Homo sapiens: one gene and its partners. The protein of the gene in region 3 purifies or fractionates together with the protein of the main gene of each other region. This does not show direct contact. Each region holds a gene or a part of one and is shown on either strand. Other genes may lie near its edges.

Region 1 (3,653 bases), about 130 Mb from region 3:
AGCAGATATTATGGTCTCAAAAAAAGGATGAATTAAAATGTACTGTCTGGGAATTTTCAATTCCGTTTTTATTTTGCCATTAATGAGGTTCACAGAGCTTTCACCTGGTGGATCAACCCCCTTTCTATTAATGTGTCTTTGAATTCTTACCTGTATTGTGGAAAAACAGTCCTGCCTCACCAGCCAATGTCTATTGCTTCTCTGATGATTTTCTTCACTCTTTATGACTCTCCCCACTTCACAGTGTCTAATTTGTCTGCTGCAGGCTCTGTGTGGCATTGGGCATGGAGCCTTGGCTTGGGGCAGTAACCAAGTGTTGTTTCCAGGGGGACAGCAAGAAGATGGAGGATGCCAGCGCATACCTGACCCTTCCTTCTTATCGACACCATGTGGAAAACAAGGGGGCCACGCTGAGCAGGAGCTCCAGCAGTGTTGGGGGGCTTTCTGTCAGCTCCCGGGATGTGTTCTCCATTTCCACCCTGGTGTGCTCCACAAAGCTCACTCAGAATGGTAATCGGGTCATCAAGAGTTGTGTCTGTGGGGAGTGTGTGTGTCCGTGTGTGTGTACATGTGTGTATGTGCTTGCAGACCCAAGGAGGTCCTGATATGGACAGTTAGGCCAGTAATGATACTTCTGAATGTCTGGACTCTATTTTAGTGGGCTTGCTGGGTTTGCTGAAGTGGCGTATGAAGCCTCAACTGCTACAGGAGAATTTAGAAAAGTTGAAGATTGTGGATGGAGAGGAAGTGGTGAAGGTCAGTGGGGCTTCATTTTGATTGTATTCTTACACTAGTGACAGAACTCTCCATGTGGGTGGCTTCAGGGGAAAAACAAGGTATTGAAGGACATGGGGAAACTTTTCTTCCAACAGTAGGATACACTCTCCCGAGTTGCCTTGAGGAATCTTTATTGGGAAATCCAGGGGAGTGACTTGGTTCAATGGCACTGAATGTTGGGTGCCAGAAAACAATGGTTATGCTCAATCTCTGGAAATAGATGAGCCTGGGTGTAAATCCCAGCTCTCCCACATGCCAACTTTATGTGATAATATAAAAGTGACATAGTTCTCAGGGCTGTTATGAGCATTCAAGGTGATAATATTTAAAACTTACTCAACAGTCTCTTACACATAGTACACAACAATTAAACCAAAGCATATAAAACAAAGTTCAATAAATGGTAATTATTATTTTTGTTGTCATATGTTGATATATATGTATATGCATATATATGTATGTATGTGTGTGAGCATATATATGTGTGCATATGTATATATACATATATATATAGTAGTATGATCTGTTAGTACTACCCACAGATCATTGTTAGAAATAAAAAGTATTCTTGGTTTCTGCTGCTTGGAGAGCATTATGTATTAAAGACGGGAAAGGGAAAGACATCAGGGCTTACATTTTAAGTGAAATAAGCAGAAAACAATGCAAATGTCAGATGTATTATTGCATCCACATGGTAGTGGAGAATAGAAAGCGTCTGAAGTGCAAATCTAATTAAAGCAACCCTTCTCTCCAGCCTTATGAATTGGGACAAGTGTTTCCCAATGGTCCTGGAGATCTTGTTTCCTTGATACAGCTAGAAATTCTGAGATTAAACATCTTTATATGGTAGCTCTGTGTTTTGAGGGATTATAGGAAATATTGACCCATCCCTTAGGAGGGAGGAAAATCAAGTTTTATTTAATTGCCTCTACCTGGAGAAGCAGTGGCAGAATTTCCAGATGCCGTAAATGTATACCACTGACCCATCTACCTCGTTCAGCAATGGCAGAGTAACTCCCCAAGACACCACTTTAATAAAGTCTATAGCCTTTTGGTAGCTTGGAGAAGTCATGGAAGAGATGAGGCTTTTGTTGTCTTCCTCTTGCATTCTTTTTTCTTTTTTTTTTTTTAAAAAAGTTTGTTATTTAAATATGATATACATATGATGAAATAGATACAGAGCAGTTATCTTAAGAGTATAGCATAATGGATTTTTACACACGTAAACACCATGTGTACTCACCACCCAGAAGAGGATACAGACCACTTTTAGCATTATAGTAGATTCCCTCATACCCCTTCTCAGCCAGTAGTCCCCCGGGGTAATCACTGTCCTGACAACCATCATTGTAGATGGGTTTTTGCCTACTCTCAAATTTCATAAGAATGGAATAGTGAAGAGTGTACTTTCTGTGCCTGATGTATTTTACTGCATATAATGCTTGTGAGAATCATCCTCATTTCTGCCTGTGGAAGTAGTTTGCACTTTAGTCCAGCTGTGTAGTATTCTCTAGTGTGAACATGCCACCATCTGTGCATCCATTCTGCTGTTGATGGGCAGTTGGGTTCCTCCAACTTCTGGCTCTCGTGAGTAAAACTACTCTAGACGTTTTGAGCATGACATGTGGTGGATGTGTGCTCTCATTCTCTTATAGATAGTTAGGAGTGGGATTGCTGGTTCACCTGTACTTTGTCTTGTTTCTGAAGTAGTGCAACCTTTGTTATTTCTTCCAGTTTCTCCAGGATACTCTGGATGCCCTCTTCAACATCATGATGGAGCATTCTCAAAGTGATGAATATGACATCCTCGTCTTTGATGCCTTGGTAAGAGAGAGGGGAAAAGTGTCTAGTGACAACAGGCATTAATGTATGTCTTACTGTGAAAATACTGAGAACTCATGGCCCTCATGGCCCTCATGGCCTTTTTCATGAATTCTTTGGAGGTGTTGTAATGTTTGGCAACAAGACCAATAATGAGCTGCTATTTCCTTTTGCTTCTTGCCAGTTCATTTGAAAGCATGAGGCATTGTGGGTGAAAGGGGAATTTTAAATGCTGATGTCAGATTGACACTGGCTGAAGGTACATGAGGCTGGATATTGTGAATGATTGCTTCTGCTTTCTATGAATGTTGGGAGCTAGTCCCTGGCTAGGTTGTAAAGCACCAAAAATGTTTCTTAGCTTTCCTTTCACCTTCTTCTCCCCATTTCCTCCAACTCACTAATCATTACATTTCTCCTACCCACCCAGAACTTTTCATGATGCTGTACCATCCAGATCTTCCTTCTTTTAGTCCTCCCCTATGGTCTTTTTGTCCTCTCCCTATCTCGACTCAGATTTTCTCAGTGTTATGTCAAAATAAACACAAGAAACATCTGCATTAGGGAATCAGTGCCCAACAAAGTTTTTAAGTGTTAACCCCTTGTGTCATGGATATTTGCATTTTTAAAGAGGTTACTGAGAGACAACTGTGGCTTAATCAAGTGCTTCCCCAGAGAGTACCCTAGAATGCTAGCTCTCAGAAAAGATGTTTCATGACAAATATATACTTTGATTAATTAATTTAGGGAAGTGTTGAATGTTGCATGACCCTTTTAGAGATTCACAATGTACATAAGTATATTAAAGATTCTAAAAAGTTTTGCAATAAGAAAGTCTAATAATGATAACCTGACATTTCTCAAAACCTATTTGACCATGAAATCCTTTTCATCTTATAACACCCCACAGCACACTTCATGAAACATTTTCTTTGGGAAGATGCTACCTTAATAAAGAGAACTCATTATGTATTAGTGAGCTAATTCCTGGGCAAAGGATTTTAATGGGGGTTGAATTATGCCAGGTAAAGATGGCTTCCTGCCCTGGGTTTGCCCTG
Region 2 (3,653 bases), on a different chromosome or scaffold from region 3:
ACAGGCGTTGAGCCACTGCACCCGGCCAAGAGAGGTTGATTCTAAGACCTGCAGGCATCTCCCACTCTCCATCTGACTTTGAATTCCTGCCTAGTCTGCCGAGCAGGTCTGACCTTTGAAGCGCCCCGTCGCTGTCTTCCAGAGCAGGCAGCCATCGTGGATGAGTTTGCGCCTCAGAAGTTCCTCTCGGCCAAAGGGGCCCTTGCCAGGCACTGGGGTTTGGGCCCGAGGGTCCATGCGGTTGTAGATCTCCTGCAGACGGGCCCCTTTCTCCAGCTGATAAATACCCTCGTCCACATTGGACAGCAGCTCCTTCACTAGCCCCAGTGCTGTGGTCAGGTCCTGGCGCTCCTCCTCGATCCCTGGCACCGGGGGTTGGCATGGGGAACGGCTCAACCAGTTTCACTCACACCCCAGTTCCCATCGTGTCTTGATTCCACCTTTAGAGGCTGCCCAGGGTTTCACACCCGACCCCACCCTTCCTGTGGTCATACCGAGCCTTTCCTCACCCCAGGTGGCCGTCTCCCAGTGGCCCTCTCCTGGGCCTGCCTACTCACCGTGGGAATGCTGCAGGATGCGGCTGATGAGTAACGGGTACTTGGTGATGCGCTGAGTCACCAGCAGGATGCACTCCTGTACCCCGTGCCGCTTGAGCACGGCGGGGCGGGTCACTTTCTACAAGGGAGGAGGCAGGGCTCAGGGCCAGAGGGGAGGGCAACAGAAAGGCCTGGGGCCTGAGCTCTGGTGCTGGCCCTGGCGTGGCCATTTACCTCATGCTTGCCTAGGTGACATATCTGGAAAATGGGGATAACAACGCCACAGGTTTGTTGTGAGGACCAACTGAAGGAGCAAAAAGTACTTGGGAAACTACCACAACGTGCTCTAGCATTCTGAGGGGTTACTGCTGACAGGATCTGTGTATGGATGGTCTGCACGGGTGGCGAATGCCTGACCTCCATGTGGGTGCAGCTCACAGGCACTACCCCCATGAGTTGGGGAGGGTGGGTTTGGGCCATGAGCATGGGATCTGGAGAGGTCCGCTCACCCGGATGAATTGCTGGAAGCGTTTGTCTCGGGCGTACAGCTCCTTATAGAGCTTTAAGGCCTTGCTGTGGCGGCTGCAGAACTCCGAGTAGGTCTTACACATCTGCTCCGCACTAGGACCTGAGAACTAGAAGTTGGTCGAGTAAGGTTAGGTCAGCATTCCCCCAAAGCCACACTTTACCCACTGGACACACCTCTGGCCTCCTGCCAAACAGGCTGGCTTCCTGTTTCTCCAGCTCTCCCTGGCTCCCCTCCAACCCCTAGAATTTGGACCCAAGAAATGCCCAACCCAGTCACACCTCCTTCCATGAATGTCACCCAGGGGTCCTGCCTTTTCCCACCTGGCTGATGAGCAGATCACCCAAGCGATGGATGACAAAGTTCCGGGTGCTGCCAGGGCACAGGGCCTGGCGTCGGCGTTCTAATAGCTGGCTGAGGAAGCGTGTATGGATGTCACTGAGCTCGTCCACGCAGGGGAACAGGCCCTGGACCACTCCTGGCTCCAAGTGTAGCTCTTCCAGCATCCCCGTGCGGAAGAGGCGGGTCATGATCTTCAGTGTCCTCACATGGTGCAGCTCTGTCTGGATTAGCTCTGTGGGGGACATTGGGACATTTGGCCTCTACCCTGGCTTGGCTAAAACTCGTGGGGCCCTAGGATAAGGACCTCACAGTTCACGTGAGGTTTTCAAGGTCCATTCCAGGTTAATATTCTGCATTATTATGATCTTAGATACTTTTCTAATCATTTTTATCTTTTTTTTTTTTTTTTTTTGAGACAGAGTCTCACTGTATTGCCCAGGCTGGAGTGCAATGGCGCGATCTCAGCTCACTGCAACCTCCACCTCCTAGGTTCGAGCAGTTGTCCTGCCTCAGCCTCCTGAGTAGCTGGGATTACAGGCACGCACCACCAGGCCCGGCTAATTTTTGTATTTTTAGTAGAGATGGGGTTTCTTCATATTGGTCAGGCTGGTCTCGAAATCCTGACCTCGTGATCTCCCCACCTCGGCCTCCCAAAGTGCTGGGATTACAGGCATGAGCCACCACACCCGGCCCTCATTTTTATCTTTCAAAAATTTTATTATTATTTTTTTTTTTCCAGAAATGAGGTCTTACTCTGGTGCCCAGGCTGGAGTGTAGTGGCACAATGATAACTCACTGCAGCCTCGAACTTCTGGGCTCAAGCGATCCTCCTGTCTCAGCCTCCCAAGTAGCTGGGACTATAGGCACATGCCACCACACCTGACTAGTTTTTTAAAATATTTTTTAAAGACGGCTGGGCACGGTGGCTCACGCCTATAATCCCAGCACTTTGGGAGGCCGAGGCGGGTGCATCACCTGAGGTCAGGTGTTCGAGACCAGCTTGGCCAACATGATGAAACCCTGTCTCTACTAAAAATGCAAAAATTAGCCGGGTGTAGTTGTAGGCGCCTGTAATCCCAGCTACTTGGGAGGCTGAGGCAGGAGAATTGCTTGAACCTGGGAGGCGGAGGTTGCAGTGAGCCGAGATAGCGCCAGTGCACTCCAGCATGGGCGACAGAGCAAGACTCTGCTTCAAAAAAAAAAAAAAAAAAAAAAAATATATATATATATATATATATATATATATACATATATATATATATATATTTTTTTTTTAGAGACAGAGGTCTTGCTTTGTTGCCTAGGTTGGTCTCAAAATCCTGGCGTCAAGTGATCCTCCCACCTCGGCCTCCCAAATCGCTGAGATTATAGGCATGAGCCACCACGCCCAGTTCCATTTTTTATCTTTACACCTTATCATCTCAAGCTGTGAGCTATTTTAGGGTAAGAACCATATGTCTTCTACATGTCGAGGCTTCCCACAGTCTCCAGCACGGTGTTAAGCGTGGAACAAGCACAGAGTAAAGACTGAAGACAGAGATAAAGAAGGGATAAAGAGAGGGTGTTGGAGACCAACAGCATCAAGAGGTAGGGACCTAGTGGGCAACCTGTGGGATACCAGGCAGGGTCTTGTAGGCCAAGAGGGAAAGGGTTTTGAGAGGTAGGGGCTGGTAGAAAGAAGGACACAGCCGGGTACGGTGGCTCACGCCTGTAATCCCAGCACTTTGGGAGGCTGAGGCGGGCAGATCACCTGAGGTCAGGAGTTTGAAACCAGCCTGGCTAACATGGTGAAACCCCGTCTCTACTAAAAATGCAAAACTTAGCCAGCATGGTGGCAGGCGCCTGTAATGAGAATCGCTTGAACCTGGGAGGTGGAGGCTGCAGTGAGCCGAGATCATGCCACTGCACTTCAGCCTGGTTGAGAGAGTGAGACTCCATCTCAAAAAAAAAAAAAAAAAGAAAAAGAAAAATAAAGAAGGAAGTAGATAAACAGGACCTGGTGAAGGAAGAGGAAGACTAGGGTGGTCTTGGCTTACCATAGATGACATCTTGCTGCTTCATCACCTCCTTTTTATGCTGCTGCAGGAAGCTGCTGTCCACAGCAAGACTCCAAGAGTCAGCTGCAAAGTCCTTCTCATCCATCTCAAAGTCACTCATCAGCTCACTGTAGATTACCTCTGCTGGACATTAGCAGGGCAAGCAACTCAGAGGTCTTGAGTTCCCTTCCCTGGGTCCCTGGCCCTTCTCTA
Region 3 (3,653 bases):
TTGTGAAATGGGGGCGATAATTACACTTAATAAAGAATTTTCCCATCTAAAGACTGTACGTACAATATACCACATGTTTATGTATACGTATATGTATATTATTATTTAATTATTTAATAATTATTTATTTTCTACTTACATACTCCAGAATTATAAAAAATAGAATTTCAGAATTTTAAAAAATTTTGCTACAACAGAAATTTAATTCTTTTCTTTATATTGCTTATCCAGTTATATAAAATGAACATATACTTTCTAATTCTGATATATTTTAACCTTCCTAAATGAAATGGTAAATTACTTAGTATTTCTAGCATTGTTTAAGAAAAATAGCAGTGGCAGGATCAAGAGTCAGCAGACCTGACTTAAAAAACTTTGTGTTCAGAAAATAAATGCTTACTTTATGACACATACACGAGTTTATTTTCTGCAGTATTGTTGCAAAAGAACGCTTTTGGAAACAACACAAATTGTTAAATTGATTAAGCTTGTCACCCATTTACTGAAGTATTATGCAACTCTAGAGAATAATCAGTTACTCTTTATTAAAATGTGGAAAGATATACAGGATTTATTTATTTTAAAAATACAAGGATCAGAGCATTGCACATAATATTCTACTTCATGAGTAAAAAGCCGGGGTGGGGGGTAGTATTTATGTTCATATTTGCTTCTGTGAACATAAAGAAACTTCAGATGGACATATAAGAAATTAAGAAGAGTGGTTTCTATGGGGTAGGGGCTGGAAAGACCCAGAAAGTGGCAGACAAGGGTTAAAGGTAGCTTCACTGTACACCATTTTACACTTACTGCTTTTTCAGTCAGAATGTAATTTCTACTTAAAAGATAAAAGAATTCAAATGCTTTTTAAAAAGGTGAATGCTTTAAAGGGGTATTATTCAGAGTTTAAAGTTATGAATCAGATTGCTTAATCCAGATATCAAATGAGGTCAATCTAGATTAAGAGGGATTGAGTTTTGATTTGTGGAAGAGGTGAATGAATAGAGAACAGGATACATTTTGGAGCATAATACATCTCAAGGCATCAGATGTTGAGGGGGTTACACTGATGACAGGATTTAAAATGTGAACTGTGGCATGGGCTACTGACAGTGAGGAAGCATTCAGGAGCAGGGGAGGGTTGCAAAGGAGAGGAGAAGGAGAACAAGGATAAACTCCGTCTGCTCTGCAGTTCTGCCTGGGTCCCTTGTAGCTTTACTTCACTAAAAATCAGACCTTGTCAGGCCTTCAGAGTCAGAAAGAGGACTTGGTTAGCATTTGTGGCAACTCACTGAAAAGCGTGACACCGGGCAACATGTGTTACCACCATGCTCTGCCACCACCCACACTGGAGCGGGAGTGAAACAAAGATGGAAGAAAGTTCCCAGGGATTTCTGCCTAACATCAGAACTCCTTCCCTGGTGTGAAGTCACAGCCATAAAATGGAGGTCATAATACTAAATTTTTTATCCGAGGTGAAGAAATAAGAGAAATAAGGGACCTTTTAGAAAGTCTCACAAAAATAATAGTTCTGAATTATGACCTGGTAATGAAACAAGATGACAGATGAGGAGGAGATGCAATGTGAAACAAGGATGAACCTTTCTGGAAGACAGATGGTCATGGGATCATTCCAAACTTGCTTTCTGTGTGTTTGAATTAGCAGAGGACTTGATCACTAAGCTGTTTACGAACAAGGAGAATACTGAACTCAGGAAGATAACATATCGCAAGATGTTTCTACAGTGCAAAAACGAAAAACAACCTTTAGGCTTAGAATTGCTTTAACTAGACCATACTTCGGTAAGGAGAAAGATGCGACTACAAGTAGTGTGGTCACCTGTAGGCATCTTGTTTCCCCCTCACAATAAACAACAGTTGCACATCATTTACCTAAAATATTAATCATCTCAGGCATGTGTGAGCTTCTTACATGCAGTCACTCAGTACCACATCCAAGAGAATTGCAGTGATATCTCTGGTAGAAATTTAAACTATTTACCCGAAAGGAGAGTAAAGTACTCCTTTGTCTGGCTCATTTTCCTAACTATATATTACTTTATGAATCATAAAAGTTCAGAAAACTTTATACTGAGAAATGGAAAATAGCTAAAATGTGAAACACAAAGTACCATTTCATGAGTACTGCTCCTTTCTCATTTGAATACTGGGCTTAGGAAACATGATGAATTGTGTGGATATTTGCAGTCACTTAAAGGAGGGCTTGTCATCTCTGTACTATTGACATTATGGCCTGAATAATTCTTTGTTGTGGGACTGTCCTGGCCATTGTAGGATGTTCAATAGCATCCCTAGCTTCTACTCACTAGAGGCCAGTAGCACCCTCCAGTTGTGGCAATCAAAAATGCCTCCATACATTGCCAAATGTCCCCTGGGGGTCAAAATTGTTCCCTTTGGGAACTGCTGACCTACAGGATAGCTCATTTTCTGTCTAACTCCTCTGTGTTGATAGGGGTAACATACCTCAGTCTCATTCAACAGAAATGAAACCCAACAAAGGAAGTAAATACAATGGTTATCATTAAGCAAAACCACGTATCAATGAAGTGGATGCATTCCCTCTCCCTTCCCCCAACAAAACCCCAGCTGACCAAGGCATTTTCTCACAGAATGAAGACTTCCTACTTTCCCAGACCTCCCACATGAAAGAAAAAAACAAGACAAAGAAAATTCATTATACACATATGAGTACCAGATATAGAGAATCATTCCTTGTTACAAAACTTTCCCCAGAAGCTAAAACATTCTCTGCCTTGGAGTAAACCATACTGAATAGCAAACGAGAAAAGAACTCACTGTTTCCAGAAGAGGTTTTGTGGAATTTCGTCAGGTCAACATTTGGTGGTCTGTTGGGTTTTGGTGGAGGTGGACCCAAGGTAAACAAGGGAGGCAATGGCTTCTGTTTCGGGGTGGCTGAATTCTTGTCTCCCTTTTCCTTTTCCTGACTTTGGCCCCATGGCCCCCCCACTGTCAGCTTAGAAGGGGCCTTAGGGAACCTGGCAGGAGGAGTCCCTGAGGCCAACTCTTCCTGATTTATTTTGCTCTGGAAGGTGTTCTTAGCAGCATCTATCTTCCTATCTTCCTTTTTTTCTTCACCATTTTTGGAGAGACCTGGGCCTCCCCTGCTCGCAGCAGGTTTCAAAACCACTCCAGGAAAGGGCAAACTTGAAATCTCCCCTGCATGGTCTTTATTTTCTGAGTCTTCCCTTGCTGGTTTTAAAGGGCCGCTTTTGGACCTGACTCCCAGGGGAGCTGGGGACCCTTTTGATGAAGACACATTCTTCATGGGGCTTTCGTCTTCATGGGAGTTCTCGGTACTTAGGGGCGGCTTCTGGCCAAAGGCGGGTTTGGGGAAGAGGGGCTTGGGTTCAAGATCTTGTGATGCTGACATAAATTTCCCTTTAACCCCAGTCAATTTGGGAAACGCTTGCTTCTGTTCATTTTCTGAGGTTGGAGGAGTAGGCCCAGATTTCGGGCCTAGTGGCTTTAAGTCATGGTCTTGGTTTACACTGTGAAGAGATGGCTTGTTTCCAGGAGGCCAGGGAAATGTAGGTTTGGAATCTTCTTTGGGCAAGTTGATGGGCTTGGGGCCTACAGGTTTCAGAAATCCCACTTTCGCCTCGGGGTCTCTG

Evidence for each region.
Region 1: the proteins of FYB1 (region 3) and DOCK2 purify together in Homo sapiens (tandem affinity purification; one study listed by IntAct). This does not show direct contact.
Region 2: the proteins of FYB1 (region 3) and ARHGEF2 purify together in Homo sapiens (tandem affinity purification; one study listed by IntAct). This does not show direct contact.

Annotation. Positions count from the first base shown.
Region 1 is NC_000005.10:169,713,702-169,717,354, forward strand, and holds part of DOCK2 (dedicator of cytokinesis protein 2), read left to right. Parts: intron 1-326; coding exon 327-510; intron 511-658; coding exon 659-756; intron 757-2,511; coding exon 2,512-2,601; intron 2,602-3,653. UniProt on the Homo sapiens protein: Involved in cytoskeletal rearrangements required for lymphocyte migration in response of chemokines. Activates RAC1 and RAC2, but not CDC42, by functioning as a guanine nucleotide exchange factor (GEF), which exchanges bound GDP for free GTP.
Region 2 is NC_000001.11:155,961,548-155,965,200, forward strand, and holds part of ARHGEF2 (rho guanine nucleotide exchange factor 2), read right to left. Parts: intron 3,585-3,653; coding exon 3,441-3,584; intron 1,637-3,440; coding exon 1,386-1,636; intron 1,172-1,385; coding exon 1,046-1,171; intron 676-1,045; coding exon 558-675; intron 363-557; coding exon 114-362; intron 1-113. UniProt on the Homo sapiens protein: Activates Rho-GTPases by promoting the exchange of GDP for GTP.
Region 3 is NC_000005.10:39,199,009-39,202,661, forward strand, and holds part of FYB1 (FYN-binding protein 1), read right to left. Parts: coding exon 2,818-3,653; intron 1-2,817. UniProt on the Homo sapiens protein: Acts as an adapter protein of the FYN and LCP2 signaling cascades in T-cells. May play a role in linking T-cell signaling to remodeling of the actin cytoskeleton. Modulates the expression of IL2. Involved in platelet activation.